Homo sapiens: one gene and its partners. The protein of the gene in region 1 purifies or fractionates together with the protein of each later gene. This does not show direct contact. Each region holds a gene or a part of one and is shown in the gene's direction. Other genes may lie near its edges.

Region 1 (4,724 bases):
AAAAGAAGACATTTATGCAGCCAACAGACACATGAAAAAATGCTCATCATCACTGGCCATCAGAGAAATGCAAATCAAAACCACAATGAGATACCCTCTCACACCAGTTAGAATGGTGATCATTAAAAAGTCAGGAGACAACAGGTGCTGCAGAGGATGTGGAGAAATGGGAACACTTTTCCACTGTTGGTGGGACTGTAAACTAGTTCAACCATGTGTAAGACAGTGTGGTGATTCCTCAAGGATCTAGAACTAGAAATACCATTTGACCCAGCCATCCCATTAGTGGGTATATACCCAAAGGATTATAAATCATGCTGCTATACAGACACATGCACACATATGTTTATTGCGGCACTGTTCACAATAGCAAAGACTTGGAACCAACCCAGATGTCCATCAGTAATAGACTGGATTAAGAAAATGTGGCACATATACACCATGGAATACTATGCAGCCATAAAAAAGGATGAGTTAATGTCCTTTGTAGGGACATAGATGAAGCTGGAAACCATCATTCTCAGCAAACTGTCGCAGGGAAAAAAAACAAAACACTGCATGTTCTCACTCATAGGTGGGAATTGAACAATGAGAACTCTTGGACACAGGAATGTGAACATCACACACTGGGGCCTGTTGTGGGGTGGGGGGAGGGGGGAGGGATAGCATTAGGAGAAATACCTAATGTAAATGGCGAGTTAATGGGTGCAGTACACCAACATGGCACATGTATACATATGTAACAAACCTGCACGTTGTGCACATGTACCCAAGAACTTAAAGTATAAAAAAAAAATTTATATATCAGGGCAATTAAAATCGTTGTTAAAAATTTACTGTAAATGATTTTTAACAGCAGCCTAATTTATTGTATGCATGTACTATTATTTACTTAATATAAATGCCTAATAATAGTGGAATGATAACCTATTCGCTTAGCCTTGTGATAAATACCTTTGTGGTTAAATTTGTATTCTAGATTATTTCTTTTTTTTTTTTTTTTTTGAGACGGAGTCTCGCTCTGTCTCCCAGGCTGGAGTGCAGTGGCGCCATCTCAACTTGCTGCAAGCTCCGCCTCCCAGGTTCACATCATTCTTGTGCCTCAGCCTCCCGAGTAGCTGAGACTACAGGCGCCTGCCACCATGCCCCGCTATTTTTTTTGGTATTTTTAGTAGAGACAGGGTTTCACCGTGTTAGCCAGGATGGTCTCGATCTCCTGACCTTGTGATCCACCCGCCTTGGCCTCCCAAAGTGCTAGGATCACAGGCGTGAGCCACTGCGCCCGGCCTAGATTATTTCTTTAAAGTAAATTTTCAACAGTGGAATTAATTGGGCCAAAAGGTACAGGTTTTTTTTTTCCCACAAATGTAGCTAAACTGCTTTCTATCTAACCATGTTCTACCAATTTGTATTTAATGTAGTTTCACTCTGACACATTCATATTTTTTATCTGGATAGTTTGCAGAGGGGAGAACTTGATAAAATTAACATTCAGTTTGGTAAAGATGATGCACAGTATTTTTTAGATTTTTTTTTTTTTTTTTTTTTTGAGACAAGAGTCTTGCTCTGTTACCCAGGCTGGAGTGCAGTGGCACAATCTTGGCTCACTGCAGCCTCCACCTCCCAGGCATAAGCAATTCTCCCACCTCAACCTCCGGAGTAGCTGGGATTACAGGTGCACGCCACCATACCTGGCTAATTTTTGTATTTTTTGTAGAGACAGGGTTTCGCCATGTTGCCCAGGCTGGTCTGGAACTCCTGAGCTTAAGTGATCCGCCTGCCTCGGACTCCCAAAGTGCTGGGATTACAGGCCTGAGCTGCCTCACCTGGCTGGATAAATTTTTAATATTCTTAACATTTATAATTGCATACAAAAAACCCTAGCAATTTGTCTCAAATTTCATGCATAGGATCAAAAGAAAATGTTTTATATGACTCATAAGTTATCCTGAGGAACCAGATAATGATACCCTGGCTTACTGTTAATTTTCTAATTTGTTACACTATTAAACTAAGAGACAATAACATCTTCATAGCTGAAAATTCTATTTCAGATTTTTGATTCAGTTTGAATTTACATATTTGTATTTTTAGAACTAGTTTATTATTTTTTTGTTAGGTGATGAATCAAGATTGGTTCTCTAAGTTATTTTAATATAGTAAACTTTGAAATTGCTTTGGGCAAGAGAGATTATATTTATTGAGAAATTAAAATAAAAGGAGGTATGTGGTCTTTTTTAGTTAATTTTTTTGTTGTGGCAAAAATATAAAATTTATCATCTGAACCATTTTTAAGTATACAGCTCAGTAGTATTATAAGCATATTTAGGTCATTATGAACAGATCTCCAGAACTTTAGCCTCCTGAAAAGATCCAGAGACCCCTGGAGCTTCTCCTACTATACTTTGAAGAACCTCTATCTTAGAGAATATATTACTTCATCTGGAAAAGACAGACTCACAGAGAACTCTAGAAATATAGTCTTTTAAAACATATCATCTAAAAGATTAATAATTCTTTTTATCATCTTATCCGGTCTGTGTTCATATTTCCCCATTGTCTAATAATGTTTTCGTAATTTTTTGAAATTAGGAGCCAAACCAGGTTCACACACGTTACATTTGGTGGTTGATATACCTTTTATTTTTTTTTAAATTTATTTTTCTGAGATGAAGTCTTGCTCTGTCACCCAGGCTGAAGTACAGTGCATGATCTCAGCTCACGGCAACTTCTGCCTCCCCAGTTCAAGTGATTCTCCTGTCTCAGCCTCCCGAGTAGCTAGGATTACAGGCGCGTGCCACCACGCCTGGCTAATTTTTTATATTTTTGGTAGAGACAGGGTTTCACCATGTTGGCCAAGCTGGTCTTGAACTCCTGATCTCAGGTGATCTGCCTGCCTCGGCCTCCCAAAGTGTTGGGATTACAGGCGTGAACCACTGGGCCTGCCCTTGATATGCCTTTTAAATTTTAATCTATTGATTGTCTCTTTGTTTATAATTTATTTGTTGAAGAAACAGGGTCATTTGTTCTACATAATTTTCCTCATTCTGGTTTTGGCTGAGTGTATCTCTGGTAAAATTTAACATGTTTTTCAGTTCTCTGTATTTCCAGTAAATTTATAGGTAGAGACAGGCTTGATTAGATTTACTTTCAATTCTTTTTTGGCAAGATTCCTAGTTGGTGATGTGTATTTCTTTACATCAAGAAGATGTGTTTTGTGATGTTAAAATCAAACAGTTTAGCTGTTGTCAGATTGATTCATCCGTTGTAAAATTCCCAATTAACTTTTCTCTAATGATAGCATCTATTGCTAATTGTTGCCTCATTGCAGTATATTAGTAGGTGTTGTAAAAGGTGATATTCCTTCTCCAGCCTTCTGAATTTATTGGCTGGGATTCTTCAGGAAAGAAGACCTCTTCCTCATATACCACTTTATTACCCTGAAAGTATTTATACAGGAAAGGCCAAAATAAAATGGGACTTTTTTTTTCTTTTTACCTACATATTCCCAGAATAATTAATTTGTGCCTTAGGAGCCTCAAAACATGACTAGAGTTTTGTTTGTTTGTTTAGAATTATAAACTCATGGATTTTTGCCTCCCATTCATTTTCGATGTTCAAATTATTCTTTCTTTGACCAGTGGCAGCTTATTTATGTTGGCTCCTTTGTCCTTGGCACAATCCCAGTGGTCTGTAGTAGTTTCCTAAAATATACAAGATGAAGCTCATCTTGTATATTTTCTTCCCCAGATTTAGAATCAGAATTCTAATTCCTTTCAGTGGGAAATGGTATTTAGAGATTATAATCTGGGTGATATTTTTGTATATTCCTACAATGTTGTCATTGTTTATAGGCCTTTTGATGGACAGAACTAGGAAAACTTTATAGAAAGAGAAAAATAATTCATGTGTTCCAGATGCTATTTCTTTTTTTTTTTTTTTTTTTTGAGACGGAGTCTCGCTCTGTCGCCCAGGCTGGACTGCGGACTGCAGTGGCGCAATCTCGGCTCACTGCAAGCTCCGCTTCCCGGGTTCACGCCATTCTCCTGCCTCAGCCTCCCCAGTAGCTGGGACTACAGGCGCCCGCCACCGCGCCCGGCTAATTTTTTGTATTTTTAGTAGAGACGGGGTTTCACCTTGTTAGCCAGGATGGTCTCGATCTCCTGACCTCATGATCCACCCGCCTCGGCCTCCCAAAGTGCTGGGATTACAGGCGTGAGCCACCGCGCCCGGCCTGCTATTTCTAACTCAGATAAAAGATGATAAGAGTTTTTACTTCATTTTAAAATTTACATTTGTATTTTTCCTCAACATGTAAAATGTGGTTCTAACAATAAGATTATTGAATTGCAAAATCTGGGGCAGGAACTATTGTATTATATTAGAAGATTGGAGGGTTACAAATACAAATGCCTAAAGGGGCCAGACAGCCAAATGAATATATCAGGCCTGTTATGAAAATCATCCGGGAATGGTGGGGATTAATAAGCCAGAGAGCATATATCCCATCTAAAGGAGGCATCTGTGACTTGATTCTAGCTGATTTTTGCCAAGAGGGAATATGGGCATGGTACTGCTTGGTTTTTTCATTTTTAAAAAGAAGACGTAATCCCTGCACTTTGGGAGGCCAAGGCAGGCAGATCATGAGGTCAGGAGATGGAGACCATCCTGGCTAACACGGTGAAACCCCGTCTCTACTAAAAATGTAAAAAATTAGTTGGGCA
Region 2 (4,724 bases), on another chromosome or scaffold:
CCCAGCAAACCCTCAGCTGGTTCTGAACCAGGGCCTTCCTGACAAGATACAGGCTCCCTGCAAAGTCCTGGGCACAGTTTCCCCCTGCTGCCGCCCTCTGTCCTGCGGATGAGCATTTCTGCTCTGGCCCCATGGAGCTGGGCTCCAGACCCGCCTGGCGGAGCTTCCAGCAGGAGAATCTGAGTCAAAGTACAGCCCTGCTGCCAGCCTGTCATGTGTCATGTGGCCTCAAGCCAGGTCCTTGTCACATAGTGGTCACCTCCCAGCCTTCAAGGCCACCAGAGGGACCACTCAAGATTCAGTTCCTTTGTTGATATCCCATATCACCAGGGTCGAGTTTTAGCTGTTTCTAAAACCAGCTTTACCAGATAAGGGGTAAAATGTTCAAAAGCTGCCAGACACGGTGACTCATGCCTGTAATCCCAGCACTTTGGGAGGCTGAGGTGGGAGGATTGCTTGAGCCCAGGAGTTCGAAACCAGCCTGAGCAACATGGTGAAACCCCGTCTGTACCAAACATACAAAAATTAGCTGGGTGTAGTGGCGTGTACCTGTAGTCCTAGCTACTCAGGAGGCTAAGGCAGGAGGATCAATTGAGTTGGGAGGTTGAGGCTGCAGTGAGTCGAGATCATGCCACTGCATTCCAGCCTGGGCAACAGAGCGAGTCCCTGTCTCAGAAGAATGTTGAAAAGCTTAGGCTGCAGGCTCTGAAGGTGATTCCTTAATGGATAGGAGGGTCTGGAGCACTCTTGGCCAGGGCCACACCTGACAGACCGGAGCACATCCCTGAGGTTGCCCGAGGTCACCCAGCTTTGGATGCCGCAGCTGGTGTTGAAATCCACACTGCGCAGCCTCGTGGCCTCCGTGTCTGTCTGTCCTCCGCCTCCCGTCTCACTCTTTCCTCCTCGGTTGCCTCTTCTTTCGGCCTGGTTCTTGGGGAAATCCCTCAGCCCTCGGCGAGAGGGTTCCCAGGCGTTGCGTCTCCCCGCGGAGCCCGCCCCGGTCTCTCCCTCCCCTCACGCCCCGCCTTTCTCTCCAGAACATCAAACGCATCAAGAAGAAGCTGAGCCTTCTGTGCATCGACTTCAACAAGAACCTGAACGAGGACACGACCTTCCTGCCCTTCACGCTCCAGGAGCTAGGTAGGGGCCGAGCAGTGGGGCACGGGTGGCCATCGGTCCTGGGACTCAGTGCAGGCCTGCCAGGCCCTCGGGGGCCGCCGCTTCCTCCTGTGGGCTTCTGTGCTGAAGGGCGGCGGGAGGCCGAAGTACGTGGACCTGACCGCCCTGGGCTGAGGACTTTCCTCACCGGAAGCGCTCCAGGGCCGTTTACAGCCAAAAGCTCTGAGCCCTCCTTGGGGAGGGCCATGGTCTGTCCCACCAAGATTCCACCCTGATAGAAAATGTCCCTGGCAGTGGCGGAAGCCCAGGCCGGACGGGGTGGCCAAGGGTGCCAGTCTCAGCCATGGCCCTGAGGGAACCACAATTTTCCCTTGAGACCCCACTTCCTGCCTGCCTTTATTTATTTAATTTAATTAATTAATTAATTTATTTTGAGATGGAGTCTTGCTCTGTTGCCCAGGCTGGAGTGCAGTGGTGCGACCTCCACTCACTGCAACCTCCGTCCCCCGGGTTCAAGTGATTCTCCTGTCTCAGCCTCCTGAGTAGCTGGGACTACAGACGTATGCCATCACACCTGGCAAATTTTTTTATTTTTAGTAGAGACGGTTTCGCCGTGTTGGCCAGGGTGGTCTCAGACTCCTGGGCTCAGGATCTGCCTGCCTCAACCTCCCAAAGTTCTGGGATTACAGGCATGAGCCACCGTGCCCAGGCAGGCCGGAATATTCTGATGGGTGCTATAGAATATAACCTCCAGTTCTAGACTCTGAATGTAGTTGCCTCTGAGGTGGTGGGTGGGGACAAGGCCCTCATGGCCGGAGGCCTCCGCAGGTGGCTTGATGTGTGGTCACCTGGGCGTATGTTTCCTGAGGGAACACTCGCAGGTCGGGCACTGCCAAGCTTGGCTGCCAGCCACTTGCTCAGCCCTCCCGTGTCTCGGGCAGCACATCCTACCCTCAGCTTCTGGCACTCAGGAGAGACGACGGGCTACAATCTGCCGTAAAGCACGTTTCCCAGCCTGCCCCTCAGTGGGTGCACTGATCACCCGCACCATTCCCGCAGCCACCCACGCCATCCCGCGGCCACCCGCACCGTCCCCGCGGCCACCCGCACCATCCCCGTGGGGCTGCTTCTCCTGCCTGCTCGTGTTAGCAAGCAGAAGGACTCGGTGCCTGATGTTCTAGAAGCCAATGCCATGGCACCAAGGATTTGAGGAAACAAAAGCTTCTCATTGCAAGTGACTCCCAAGGAGACTGGGCGTCCAGCTCAAATCTGCCTCCTGTGCCAGCTTTCAGGCAGTACTTTCATGAGAGAAGGTGCAGAGGTGGATTCTGGGATTAGCAGGTGATTGTTGGAAGGAAAGGGGAGGTCTGGAAGGTCCTTGGGCACGCACAGTTATCTGTCCGTGCCAGCTCGTGGGTCCTGGGTGTGAATCCTGGGGAAGTCTGTATGAAGCGCGGTGGAAGTTCAGTTGGCATCAGCCAGCTGGTTCTGCACAGACTCTGCTGGCTCATGTGGGTTCCAGCCGGTTTCAGCCAGTTTTGTTCTTGTCGGCGTTTCAGCTGCCTGTTTCTTTTCACGTTTGCCATCCTGCAAACTCGAATGTTTGTGGATTTTGGTGTCTAACTCTTTGGGGTGCCGTTCCATTTGTCGGGCCTGAGGGGTCTCCCGTGCAGGTGGCTTGAGTCCCATGTGGCCAGGTGACACCGTCATGCGGGTGGCTAGCGTGTTGGGTGACAGTCTCCAGGGCTGTCCGCTGCTGCTGCCCCGGGACCTGTTTCCCTTTGTGGTCCGTCATTTCTCAGGAGACGCCTTGCGATGGTCTTAGTTCCTTTTCTTCTGCTTACAACAGAAAACCTAAGGCCATGTAGTTTATAAGAAAAGGAATTAACTTGTCACAGCTCTGGAGGCTGAGAAGTCCCAGGTCGAGGGGCCATATCTGGCCAGGGCCTTCTTCCTGGTGGGGACTCTGGAGCCCTGAGGCGGCCAGGGTGTCACATGGCAAGGGGAGGGGGCTAAGCGAGCCGGTTCCACCCAGGTCTCTCCTCCTCACAAAGCCCCAGGCCCTCTGCCACATTAACCCATCTGTCCCTTCATCCATGAATCCATGAATGGATTCATCCATTCCTGAAGGCAGAGGCCACATGACCCAGCTGCCTCTTGAAGGCCCCAGTACCTAATCCTGCCATCTCCCAATACCACCATCTCCAACACCGCCATCTCCCGATACCCACATCTCCCAATACCCACATCTCCCGATACCGCTACCTCTCAATACCGCCACCTCCCAACACTGCCATCTCCCGATACCCACATCTCCCAATACTGCTACCTCTCAATACCACCACCTCCAACACCACCATCTCCAACACTGCCACCTCCAACACCACCATCTCCAACACCGCCACCTCCAACACCGCCGTCTCCCGATACCTCCACCTCCGGACACCCCCACCTCCTGACCCACCCACCTCCCAACACCAACACCTCCCGACACACCCACCTCCCGACACCCCCACCTCCCAATACCAACACCTCCCGACACCCCCACTTCCCGACACCCCCACCTCCCGACACCAACACCTCCCAACACCAACACTTCCCCACACCCCCACCTCCCAACACTAACACCTCCTGACACCCCCACCTCCCGACACCCCCACCTCCCAACACCAACACCTCCCGACACCCCCACCTCCCGACACCAACACCTCCCGACACCAACACCTCCCGACACCAACACCTCACGACACCCACACCTCCCGACACCAACACCTCCCGACACCAACACCTTCCGACACCCCCACCTCCCGACACCGCCACCTCCCGATACCCGCATCTCCCGACACCACCATCTCTGGCATTAAGTTCCTGGTGCATTTTGGAGGGGACGCACCCAACCAGAGCAGAGACCTGTGAGTGTCCATCACTCGCACATTGTCATACACTAGTTGCCATGTCCATGGATGACTTCTGCCGCCCTCACCCTCTGGGCATCAGTCATCCTGCCGTGACTCCGAACCTTCCCTCCTTGCCTGTCTTCTTACTGATTTGTTTCTGTCCGTGTGCATGAGGCTTCTGTCTTATTCCCGGGTTATCATTCATTATCATTTATCCCAGTGCTCAAATCGTCCCACATGGACCCTCAGGAGTCCCTCCGAACAATCCCTGTGTCCTTGTAATGCACCTGCTGTCCTCTGAACCTGCTCTTACTGTGGGGCACATGGTACCGCAGGCTCGGCCTCTGAGCCCGCGCTTACTGTGGGGCGCGCGGTACCGCAGGCTCGGCCTCTGAGCCCACTCTTACTGTTGGACATGTGATGTCGCAGGCTCGTCCCATGCTCTCCCTGCCCCAGCCCTCAGATGCTCCATTTCTTGGAGGAGACCTGGCGCCTTTGAGTGGAGGGTGACTTAGGCACCGGATGTGTTCACCACTGCCAGGGAGCAGCATTCCTGGGCACCGTTAACAGTTAGGAAGCAGACACGCATCTCTGCACCACACATGGACACACACACTCTTCTATTCTGTGTCTGTATATCAAATCCACAAGTGCAGCGGGGCATGCCGGCACACACCTGAGGTCCCAGCCACTCGGGAGGCTGAGGCA
Region 3 (4,594 bases), on another chromosome or scaffold:
CACTTCAAGGGGTAAAGGCTATAGTTCATTGACAGTGATGAAATAACCTAGCTGGCTTTCATATAAATAGCAACGAATGTGCACAATAGTTACATTACATGGTATATTTAACAACACTGCTAAAGAGTAAGATGGGAGTTCAGTCTTTCCTGATGGAGATACACCTGAGTGCATTCAGAGAAAATTTGGTTCTGCAAGCTTGAAGGAAGTAATTGTTATTCAACAGAAATCAACTAACTTTGCATATCAGTAAAATACACACACATACTCTTAGCTATTTTCTGAGTGCTCTGGAACTGATATCAAAATAGCAAATATATATTTATGAGAAGTAGAAATGCTGTATTCTTTTCAGTCACATAAACTCAGTGTAATTATGAAATTAACTTAACTTTGAGAAGATATGAAAAATGTTACTTCTTAACCAAGTAAAGATCTAATAAAAACTACAAATTTTATATCAAGTTACATCATTTTTACATGCACATTTGTACCCCAAATACCATGCCATTAATTAATTTTTCACTGTTCATTTCTAGATGGAAGACTGTATTTGAAAACTACTGTCATGTACTGAATCTTTCCTGTTGAAGAAATCCATGTTATAGAAAAGAACTTTGCAGTCAGACATTCGTCATGGGAAAGTTCAGAAAAAAATAAAGTCCTTTTAAGGGAACTTCCTGAATTTTGTGTATTAATGTTCTTTAAAAGTTTAAGTATTCTACAAAAAAAAAAAAAGTTTTCTCCATTGATTTTCACCTGTGGTTCATACCAGAGACCTGAGAATGTTTGTAAATGTACAAGTATCAAAGTTCTTACAGTTAATTACTGCAACTTGCTGCTGGACAATTGTATACAGAGTTAAAGGCAGGTCTGAATAAGACCTAGCTTTGTTTTTTTCTAATGGAATGAACCATTTTCCTCTTCTGAAAATTCTGTATCTGAGCACATCAAGAGACTCTTGTAGCAGTGGTTACCCAGACTTACAGAATTATGTCCTCCAGAAACCAGCAAGAACACTTGGAATGAACGAATGAACTTGTAGGGGGCATAGAGGATTCTTGAAAAAAAAAAATGCAAGAGTGATTTTCTGTTACATTCAATTTCAAACTCTCTAATTGTGGGTTTTCTCCTGAAGAATTTTTTTTCACATACTTTCCAAAAGACCAACAAATGGATGTTGACAACAACCCAATGAAATAACATTTTGCATATCTGAAAAGAAGCATTGAATATAAGCCAAAAGCTTTCACTGAAGGTTTTTTTTTCTTAAAAATAAAAAAAAATATATAAGTGTAACATGTTTTCATTCCAAACTGGTAGTGGTATGTAGAATTAAAGATAATAATGTTGCTTCTTATTCAAACTGTTGGTCATATGTACAGTATATAAACATAAAACACACAAGGAAGGTATTATGTATGCAGTAGTATACTAGAGTTTAGGAAAATGAAAATTTTAGAAAATATGTTTTGTCACCCTGTTGGTCAGAAAGATGTCTTTCTGGTTTTAACGCATGCAGGCATGTAAATATTTGTCTGGAGTCACAGTATTAATGAATGAGATCTTAAGCATCTGGTGACATCAGAACTCTGTGTCAGCCACTTTTATTTGTATATTGAACCCTAGCTAGTGCCCCAAGCTGCACTATTGGGAATGGATTGTGGCTGAACAGCAAATCAAAACACCAGAAATATTTTTATATGTTAACGTCATATTATGTTAATGTTGCTGAAAACAAAACCTAACAAACCTTGATGTACCAGTCCAATACCATGTAGCGCTGAGTGATAAAGTTAAAATGTGCTGTGCTTCCCACCCTTGTCAGAGGGAAGGGTGGCTATGTGTTATTTTCACTGTCTTTTTGAAAGTTACAGTATGTGTTTTCACTTTCGTGCAGATAACTGGAAGTAAAGCGGCAAACAGTGCTTATTACATGCTAAAGTTACCTTCTCTTTGTTTTTTGCATATCTGGAATTACACCTTTAAAGACTGATATGAATCAGTACGGTCACTATACATTTTATGATTTTTCTGTCATCTTAAAATTGTATGATCGTAACATTATTTATTACCACAAAACAGCAAAATCTTCAATGTCTAAGAAAACTAGCTTAAAATGTTTAAATATAGTTCTGATTGGGTATTAATTACTTGATTAAGAAAAAATTAACATTATAGATACTCTGGCATTACGCTTCTATACCTTTTAGGTCTTCCTTGCAATACTGGAACATAATTCTTTTGTGTAGCTCACTATTAGCCAGCTAAGTTCATCTTTTTAATACCATAAAAAGGTTATATGTACAGTTCCTATTTTAGCTTGCTTACAAAGGGAGCATTATTTTTATTTAAAGTATTGCTAGTAAATGATTTGTAGAAACTTGGTTTTCTAAGCATAGTTCTTCCATAACCACCTTTTGTTGTTTGAGCACAAGGGATTCTTTTCCTAGTTCTATGTGTTTGTTTCCCTATATGCAGTCTTTAAAGGATTACAACACTTAAAATTGAATGGACTTGTGTCAAGCTTTTTGCATCATACATTTTTTGAAAGATTTTTAAAAAAGCCTACAACTTACATATGTAGTAGAATCAGCCATTGCTCTGCTCCTGGCATAGAGTCACCTGTTTGTTATGTGGATTAAATAGTTTTAAAATACATATTTGAAGACCTTTGAGAATGCTTTAGTGTTTGATTTGAAATAAAAGGAAATTTTAGCAAGGATTAAAGAAAAAAGCTATCAGCTGTATGTTAAGAGAGACTCTTACTAACATGTTGTAAATATTACAATTCATGAAATGTTATTGTAAGTCTGTAACTTAATTTTTTCCCTGTTTTAGTTATACAGGTTGGTTTGGAAATTTGTGTTTTGGCATAAACAAGTAAAATGTGCCCATTTTATGGTTTCCATGCTTTTGTAATCCTAAAAATATTAATGTCTAGTTGTTCTATATTATAACCACATTTGCGCTCTATGCAAGCCCTTGGAACAGAACATACTCATCTTCATGTAGGACCTATGAAAATTGTCTATTTTTATCTATATATTTAAAGTTTTCTAAAAATGATAAAAGGTTATTACGAATTTTGTTGTACAAAATCTGTACAAAAATCTGTTTTTACATCATAATGCAAGAATTGGAAATTTTTCTATGGTAGCCTAGTTATTTGAGCCTGGTTTCAATGTGAGAACCACGTTTACTGTTATTGTATTTAATTTTCTTTTCCTTTTCAACAATCTCCTAATAAAACTGTCTGAAATCTCCCTGTGACTTTATTTACAGTTCATCTTTATTAAATTTTGTGAAATGCATAGCATTGAAGGAATATTTACTTTCTAATGGGAGGCATCTAAAAACAACACAAGTCAGCTCTTTGCAATGCAAGGGGAACAATGCTCAATGATTTTATTTAACATGCAACTGCTTCTATCTCTAATATGAATTACTGTGGTGAAAAACATCATAAAAGCACACTCTGTAGTTATTGTTTAACAAGCAGATTTTCCATATTTTGTTTCTTGCCAGCTAAGCAAACTGCCCACATATACATGATTTATTTATGTACATTTCTCAGTTTATGAAGCTGTTATTTGTACCTTTTTTCTTTATATTCTTATATTCCCATGATTCTTATTTCACAAAGCTTTGTGCTGAATAATGCAAAGTAGACATGTTGATGGAACAAAATATATTATTCCCATATCTATGAGTGGAGATTTGTAACTCTAACTCAGTGTTTTGCTTTTGATCTCTATCTTTGGAAAAAAAATGCCTTTAGAAACTTTGAAATTACAATATCCTTTAATAATACATAAACACTTTAATCAATCAAAAGTGCAGCATTTGAAGAACTATCGGGTTGCTATCTCTGTGAATATTCTAAACATTCCCAAGAGAAAGGAAAATGAATTTTTCTGTCTAAAGGTATGATTTTAATGAATTCTTGAAACAGTATATTAAATTATGATTTTTTTCCTTAATAAAACCTAAAACGTTTATGATGTGACCATTACAAGCACATTTTTGTCTTCTGTCATCATATGTTTATGTCAGTAAGACTAGCACTAGAACATCATGCAGTCTCTGGATGTTAGTGAAACTCAGTGATAATTTAGGTTTGCCCCCATGTGTTTTCATTGAGACTAGCAAATTTATAATGTTCACAAAAGCTATTTATTACTAGAGGAGAGTATCTTATAAATATGTTATATGGATTGCATTTTTAAAATATGGGAAATAGAGATGTTAATAGAATCAAAAAGCTGTTGTAAATTGCCTTACAAAAATATCTTTTCCTTATGTGCAGGCTTGATGGTAACATTTATCTTTACTATATGACTTGTATATAAAAGCTGAACTTATCCTCATTTATTCATTTAAGCAAATTCATGAATAAAGCCTCCATTCTACACAAAGCACTGCACCAGACGTTGTAATGACTGAAGTTGAAAGCTTATAATTTTGTTGGAATGAGGAATCTTACTTTCAGGAAAATAAGATTCATTGAGCATTTTTTTTTTTGCTCTGTAGTGGAAATAGAACTGGCATTAAAAGGGTATTGCCATAGACACCTTTCTACTAGGTGGTAACA
Region 4 (5,471 bases), on another chromosome or scaffold:
AATCCGGGGAAGCCTTAATTCACGTGTAGGGGAGGTCAGGCCACTGGCTAAGTATATCCTTCCACTCCAGCTCTAAGATGGTCTTAAATTGTGATTATCTATATCCACCTCTGTCTCCCTCACTGTGCTTGGAGTTTACCTGATCACTCAACTAGAAACAGGGGAAGATTTTATCAAATTCTTTTTTTTTTTTTTTTTTTTTTTGAGACAGAGTCTCACTCTGTTGCCCAGGCTGGAGTGCAGTGGCGCAGTCTCGGCTCACTGCAACCTCTGCCTCCCAGGTTCAAGTGATTCTCCTGCCTCAGCCTCCTGAGTTGCTGGGATTACAGGCATGCAGCACCATGCCCAGCTAATTTTTGTATTTTTAGTAGAGATGGGGTTTCACCAATGTTTGCCAGGCTGGCCTCGAACTCCTGACCTGGTGATCCACCTGCCTCAGCCTCCCAAAGTGCTGGGATTACAGGCGTCAGCCACCGCGCCCAGCCACTTTTGTCAAATTCTTGAGACACAGCTCGGGCTGGATCAAGTGAGCTACTCTGGTTTTATTGAACAGCTGAAATAACCAACTTTTTGGAAATTGATGAAATCTTACGGAGTTAACAGTGGAGGTACCAGGGCTCTTAAGAGTTCCCGATTCTCTTCTGAGACTACAAATTGTGATTTTGCATGCCACCTTAATCTTTTTTTTTTTTTTTTTAAATCGAGGTTTCAGTCTCATTCTATTTCCCAGGCTGGAGTTCAATGGCGTGATCACAGCTCACTGTAGCCTTGAACTCCTGGCCTTAAGAGATTCTCCTGCTTCGGTCTCCCAATAGCTAAGACTACAGTAGTCCACCACCATATCCAGATAATTTTTAAATTTTTTGGGGGGCCGGGCACAGTGGCTCACGCCTGTAATCCCAACACCATGGGAGGCTGAGATGGGTGGATCACGAGGTCAGGAGTTTGAGACCAGCCTGACCAACATGGTGAAACTCTGTCTCTACTAAAAAAAAAAAAAATAGAAAAATTAGCCGGGCGTGGTGGCACACGGCACCTGTAATCCCAGCTACTGAGGAGGCTGAGGCAGGAGAATCACTTGAACCCAGAAGGCAGAGGTTGCAATGAGCCGAGATTGCGCCACTGCACTCCAGCCTGGGTGACAGAGTGAGACTCTGTCTCAAAAAAAAAAAATTTTTTTTTTTTTTTTGTAGAGATGGATCTTGCTTTGTTTCTCTGGTTGGCCTTGAACTCCTGGCTTCAAGTGATCCTCCTACCTTGGCCTCGGAAAGTGTTGGGATTACAGGCGTGAGCCACCATGACTGACCTGTCGTTTAATCTTGAGGTACATAAACCTGGCTCCTAAAGGCTAAATATTTTGTTGGAGAAGGGGCATTGGATTTTGCATGAGGATGATTCTGACCTGGGAGGGCAGGTCAGCAGGCATCTCTGTTGCACAGATAGAGTGCACAGGTCTGGAGAACAAGGAGTGGGGGGTTATTGGAATTCCACATTGTTTGCTGCACGTTGGATTTTGAAATGCTAGGGAACTTTGGGAGACTCATATTTCTGGGCTAGAGGATCTGTGGACCACAAGATCTTTTTATGATGACAGTAGCAATGTATCTGTGGAGCTGGATTCTGGGTTGGGAGTGCAAGGAAAAGAATGTACTAAATGCCAAGACATCTATTTCAGGAGCATGAGGAATAAAAGTTCTAGTTTCTGGTCTCAGAGTGGTGCAGGGATCAGGGAGTCTCACAATCTCCTGAGTGCTGGTGTCTTAGGGCACACTGGGTCTTGGAGTGCAAAGGATCTAGGCACGTGAGGCTTTGTATGAAGAATCGGGGATCGTACCCACCCCCTGTTTCTGTTTCATCCTGGGCGTGTCTCCTCTGCCTTTGTCCCCTAGATGAAGTCTCCATGAGCTACAGGGCCTGGTGCATCCAGGGTGATCTAGTAATTGCAGAACAGCAAGTGCTAGCTCTCCCTCCCCTTCCACAGCTCTGGGTGTGGGAGGGGGTTGTCCAGCCTCCAGCAGCATGGGGAGGGCCTTGGTCAGCCTCTGGGTGCCAGCAGGGCAGGGGCGGAGTCCTGGGGAATGAAGGTTTTATAGGGCTCCTGGGGGAGGCTCCCCAGCCCCAAGCTTACCACCTGCACCCGGAGAGCTGTGTCACCATGTGGGTCCCGGTTGTCTTCCTCACCCTGTCCGTGACGTGGATTGGTGAGAGGGGCCATGGTTGGGGGGATGCAGGAGAGGGAGCCAGCCCTGACTGTCAAGCTGAGGCTCTTTCCCCCCCAACCCAGCACCCCAGCCCAGACAGGGAGCTGGGCTCTTTTCTGTCTCTCCCAGCCCCACTCCAAGCCCATACCCCCAGCCCCTCCATATTGCAACAGTCCTCACTCCCACACCAGGTCCCCGCTCCCTCCCACTTACCCCAGAACTTTCTCCCCATTGCCCAGCCAGCTCCCTGCTCCCAGCTGCTTTACTAAAGGGGAAGTTCCTGGGCATCTCCGTGTTTCTCTTTGTGGGGCTCAAAACCTCCAAGGACCTCTCTCAATGCCATTGGTTCCTTGGACCGTATCACTGGTCCACCTCCTGAGCCCCTCAATCCTATCACAGTCTACTGACTTTTCCCATTCAGCTGTGAGTGCCCAACCCTATCCCAGAGACCTTGATGCTTGGCCTCCCAATCTTGCCCTAGGATACCCAGATGCCAACCAGACACCTCCTTCTTCCTAGCCAGGCTATCTGGCCTGAGACAACAAATGGGTCCCTCAGTCTGGCAATGGGACTCTGAGAACTCCTCATTCCCTGACTCTTAGCCCCAGACTCTTCATTCAGTGGCCCACATTTTCCTTAGGAAAAACATGAGCATCCCCAGCCACAACTGCCAGCTCTCTGATTCCCCAAATCTGCATCCTTTTCAAAACCTAAAAACAAAAAGAAAAACAAATAAAACAAAACCAACTCAGACCAGAACTGTTTTCTCAACCTGGGACTTCCTAAACTTTCCAAAACCTTCCTCTTCCAGCAACTGAACCTCGCCATAAGGCACTTATCCCTGGTTCCTAGCACCGCTTATCCCCTCAGAATCCACAACTTGTACCAAGTTTCCCTTCTCCCAGTCCAAGACCCCAAATCACCACAAAGGACCCAATCCCCAGACTCAAGATATGGTCTGGGCGCTGTCTTGTGTCTCCTACCCTGATCCCTGGGTTCAACTCTGCTCCCAGAGCATGAAGCCTCTCCACCAGCACCAGCCACCAACCTGCAAACCTAGGGAAGATTGACAGAATTCCCAGCCTTTCCCAGCTCCCCCTGCCCATGTCCCAGGACTCCCAGCCTTGGTTCTCTGCCCCCGTGTCTTTTCAAACCCACATCCTAAATCCATCTCCTATCCGAGTCCCCCAGTTCCTCCTGTCAACCCTGATTCCCCTGATCTAGCACCCCCTCTGCAGGTGCTGCACCCCTCATCCTGTCTCGGATTGTGGGAGGCTGGGAGTGCGAGAAGCATTCCCAACCCTGGCAGGTGCTTGTGGCCTCTCGTGGCAGGGCAGTCTGCGGCGGTGTTCTGGTGCACCCCCAGTGGGTCCTCACAGCTGCCCACTGCATCAGGAAGTGAGTAGGGGCCTGGGGTCTGGGGAGCAGGTGTCTGTGTCCCAGAGGAATAACAGCTGGGCATTTTCCCCAGGATAACCTCTAAGGCCAGCCTTGGGACTGGGGGAGAGAGGGAAAGTTCTGGTTCAGGTCACATGGGGAGGCAGGGTTGGGGCTGGACCACCCTCCCCATGGCTGCCTGGGTCTCCATCTGTGTTCCTCTATGTCTCTTTGTGTCGCTTTCATTATGTCTCTTGGTAACTGGCTTCGGTTGTGTCTCTCCGTGTGACTATTTTGTTCTCTCTCTCCCTCTCTTCTCTGTCTTCAGTCTCCATATCTCCCCCTCTCTCTGTCCTTCTCTGGTCCCTCTCTAGCCAGTGTGTCTCACCCTGTATCTCTCTGCCAGGCTCTGTCTCTCGGTCTCTGTCTCACCTGTGCCTTCTCCCTACTGAGCACACGCATGGGATGGGCCTGGGGGGACCCTGAGAAAAGGAAGGGCTTTGGCTGGGCGCGGTGGCTCACACCTGTAATCCCAGCACTTTGGGAGGCCAAGGCAGGTAGATCACCTGAGGTCAGGAGTTCGAGACCAGCCTGGCCAACTGGTGAAACCCCATCTCTACTAAAAATACAAAAAATTAGCCAGGCGTGGTGGCGCATGCCTGTAGTCCCAGCTACTCAGGAGGCTGAGGGAGGAGAATTGCTTGAACCTGGGAGGTGGAGGTTGCAGTGAGCCGAGACCGTGCCACTGCACTCCAGCCTGGGTGACAGAGTGAGACTCCGCCTCAAAAAAAAAAAAAAAAAAAAAGAAAAGAAAAGAAAAGAAAAGGAAGTGTTTTATCCCTGATGTGTGTGGGTATGAGGGTATGAGAGGGCCCCTCTCACTCCATTCCTTCTCCAGGACATCCCTCCACTCTTGGGAGACACAGAGAAGGGCTGGTTCCAGCTGGAGCTGGGAGGGGCAATTGAGGGAGGAGGAAGGAGAAGGGGGAAGGAAAACAGGGTATGGGGGAAAGGACCCTGGGGAGCGAAGTGGAGGATACAACCTTGGGCCTGCAGGCCAGGCTACCTACCCACTTGGAAACCCACGCCAAAGCCGCATCTACAGCTGAGCCACTCTGAGGCCTCCCCTCCCCAGCGGTCCCCACTCAGCTCCAAAGTCTCTCTCCCTTTTCTCTCCCACACTCTATCATCCCCCGGATTCCTCTCTACTTGGTTCTCATTCTTCCTTTGACTTCCTGCTTCCCTTTCTCATTCATCTGTTTCTCACTTTCTGCCTGGTTTTGTTCTTCTCTCTCTCTTTCTCTGGCCCATGTCTGTTTCTCTATGTTTCTGTCTTTTCTTTCTCATCCTGTGTATTTTCGGCTCACCTTGTTTGTCACTGTTCTCCCCTCTGCCCTTTCATTCTCTCTGTCCTTTTACCCTCTTCCTTTTTCCCTTGGTTTCTCTCAGTTTCTGTATCTGCCCTTCACCCTCTCACACTGCTGTTTCCCAACTCGTTGTCTGTATTTTTGGCCTGAACTGTGTCTTCCCCAACCCTGTGTTTTTCTCACTGTTTCTTTTTCTCTTTTGGAGCCTCCTCCTTGCTCCTCTGTCCCTTCTCTCTTTCCTTATCATCCTCGCTCCTCATTCCTGCGTCTGCTTCCTCCCCAGCAAAAGCGTGATCTTGCTGGGTCGGCACAGCCTGTTTCATCCTGAAGACACAGGCCAGGTATTTCAGGTCAGCCACAGCTTCCCACACCCGCTCTACGATATGAGCCTCCTGAAGAATCGATTCCTCAGGCCAGGTGATGACTCCAGCCACGACCTCATGCTGCTCCGCCTGTCAGAGCCTGCCGAGCTCACGGATGCTGTGAAGGTCATGGACCTGCCCACCCAGGAGCCAGCACTGGGGAC

Evidence for each region.
Region 2: the proteins of DCK (region 1) and THOP1 fractionate together in Homo sapiens (co-fractionation; one large-scale study listed by BioGRID). This does not show direct contact.
Region 3: the proteins of DCK (region 1) and DACH1 purify together in Homo sapiens (affinity purification with mass spectrometry; one large-scale study listed by BioGRID and IntAct). This does not show direct contact.
Region 4: the proteins of DCK (region 1) and KLK3 purify together in Homo sapiens (affinity purification with mass spectrometry; one large-scale study listed by BioGRID and IntAct). This does not show direct contact.

Annotation. Positions count from the first base shown.
Region 1 is NC_000004.12:71,017,140-71,021,863, forward strand, and holds part of DCK (deoxycytidine kinase), read left to right. Parts: intron 1-4,724. UniProt on the Homo sapiens protein: Phosphorylates the deoxyribonucleosides deoxycytidine, deoxyguanosine and deoxyadenosine. Has broad substrate specificity, and does not display selectivity based on the chirality of the substrate.
Region 2 is NC_000019.10:2,798,652-2,803,375, forward strand, and holds part of THOP1 (thimet oligopeptidase), read left to right. Parts: intron 1-1,037; coding exon 1,038-1,140; intron 1,141-3,379; exon of another isoform or gene 3,380-4,724. UniProt on the Homo sapiens protein: Involved in the metabolism of neuropeptides under 20 amino acid residues long. Involved in cytoplasmic peptide degradation. Able to degrade the amyloid-beta precursor protein and generate amyloidogenic fragments.
Region 3 is NC_000013.11:71,436,638-71,441,231, reverse strand, and holds the end of DACH1 (dachshund homolog 1), read left to right. Parts: intron 1-539; coding exon 540-577; 3' UTR 578-3,266; downstream 3,267-4,594. UniProt on the Homo sapiens protein: Transcription factor that is involved in regulation of organogenesis. Seems to be a regulator of SIX1, SIX6 and probably SIX5.
Region 4 is NC_000019.10:50,852,801-50,858,271, forward strand, and holds the start of KLK3 (prostate-specific antigen isoform 1 preproprotein), read left to right. Parts: upstream 1-2,114; 5' UTR 2,115-2,155; coding exon 2,156-2,201; intron 2,202-3,439; coding exon 3,440-3,599; intron 3,600-5,228; coding exon 5,229-5,471. UniProt on the Homo sapiens protein: Hydrolyzes semenogelin-1 thus leading to the liquefaction of the seminal coagulum.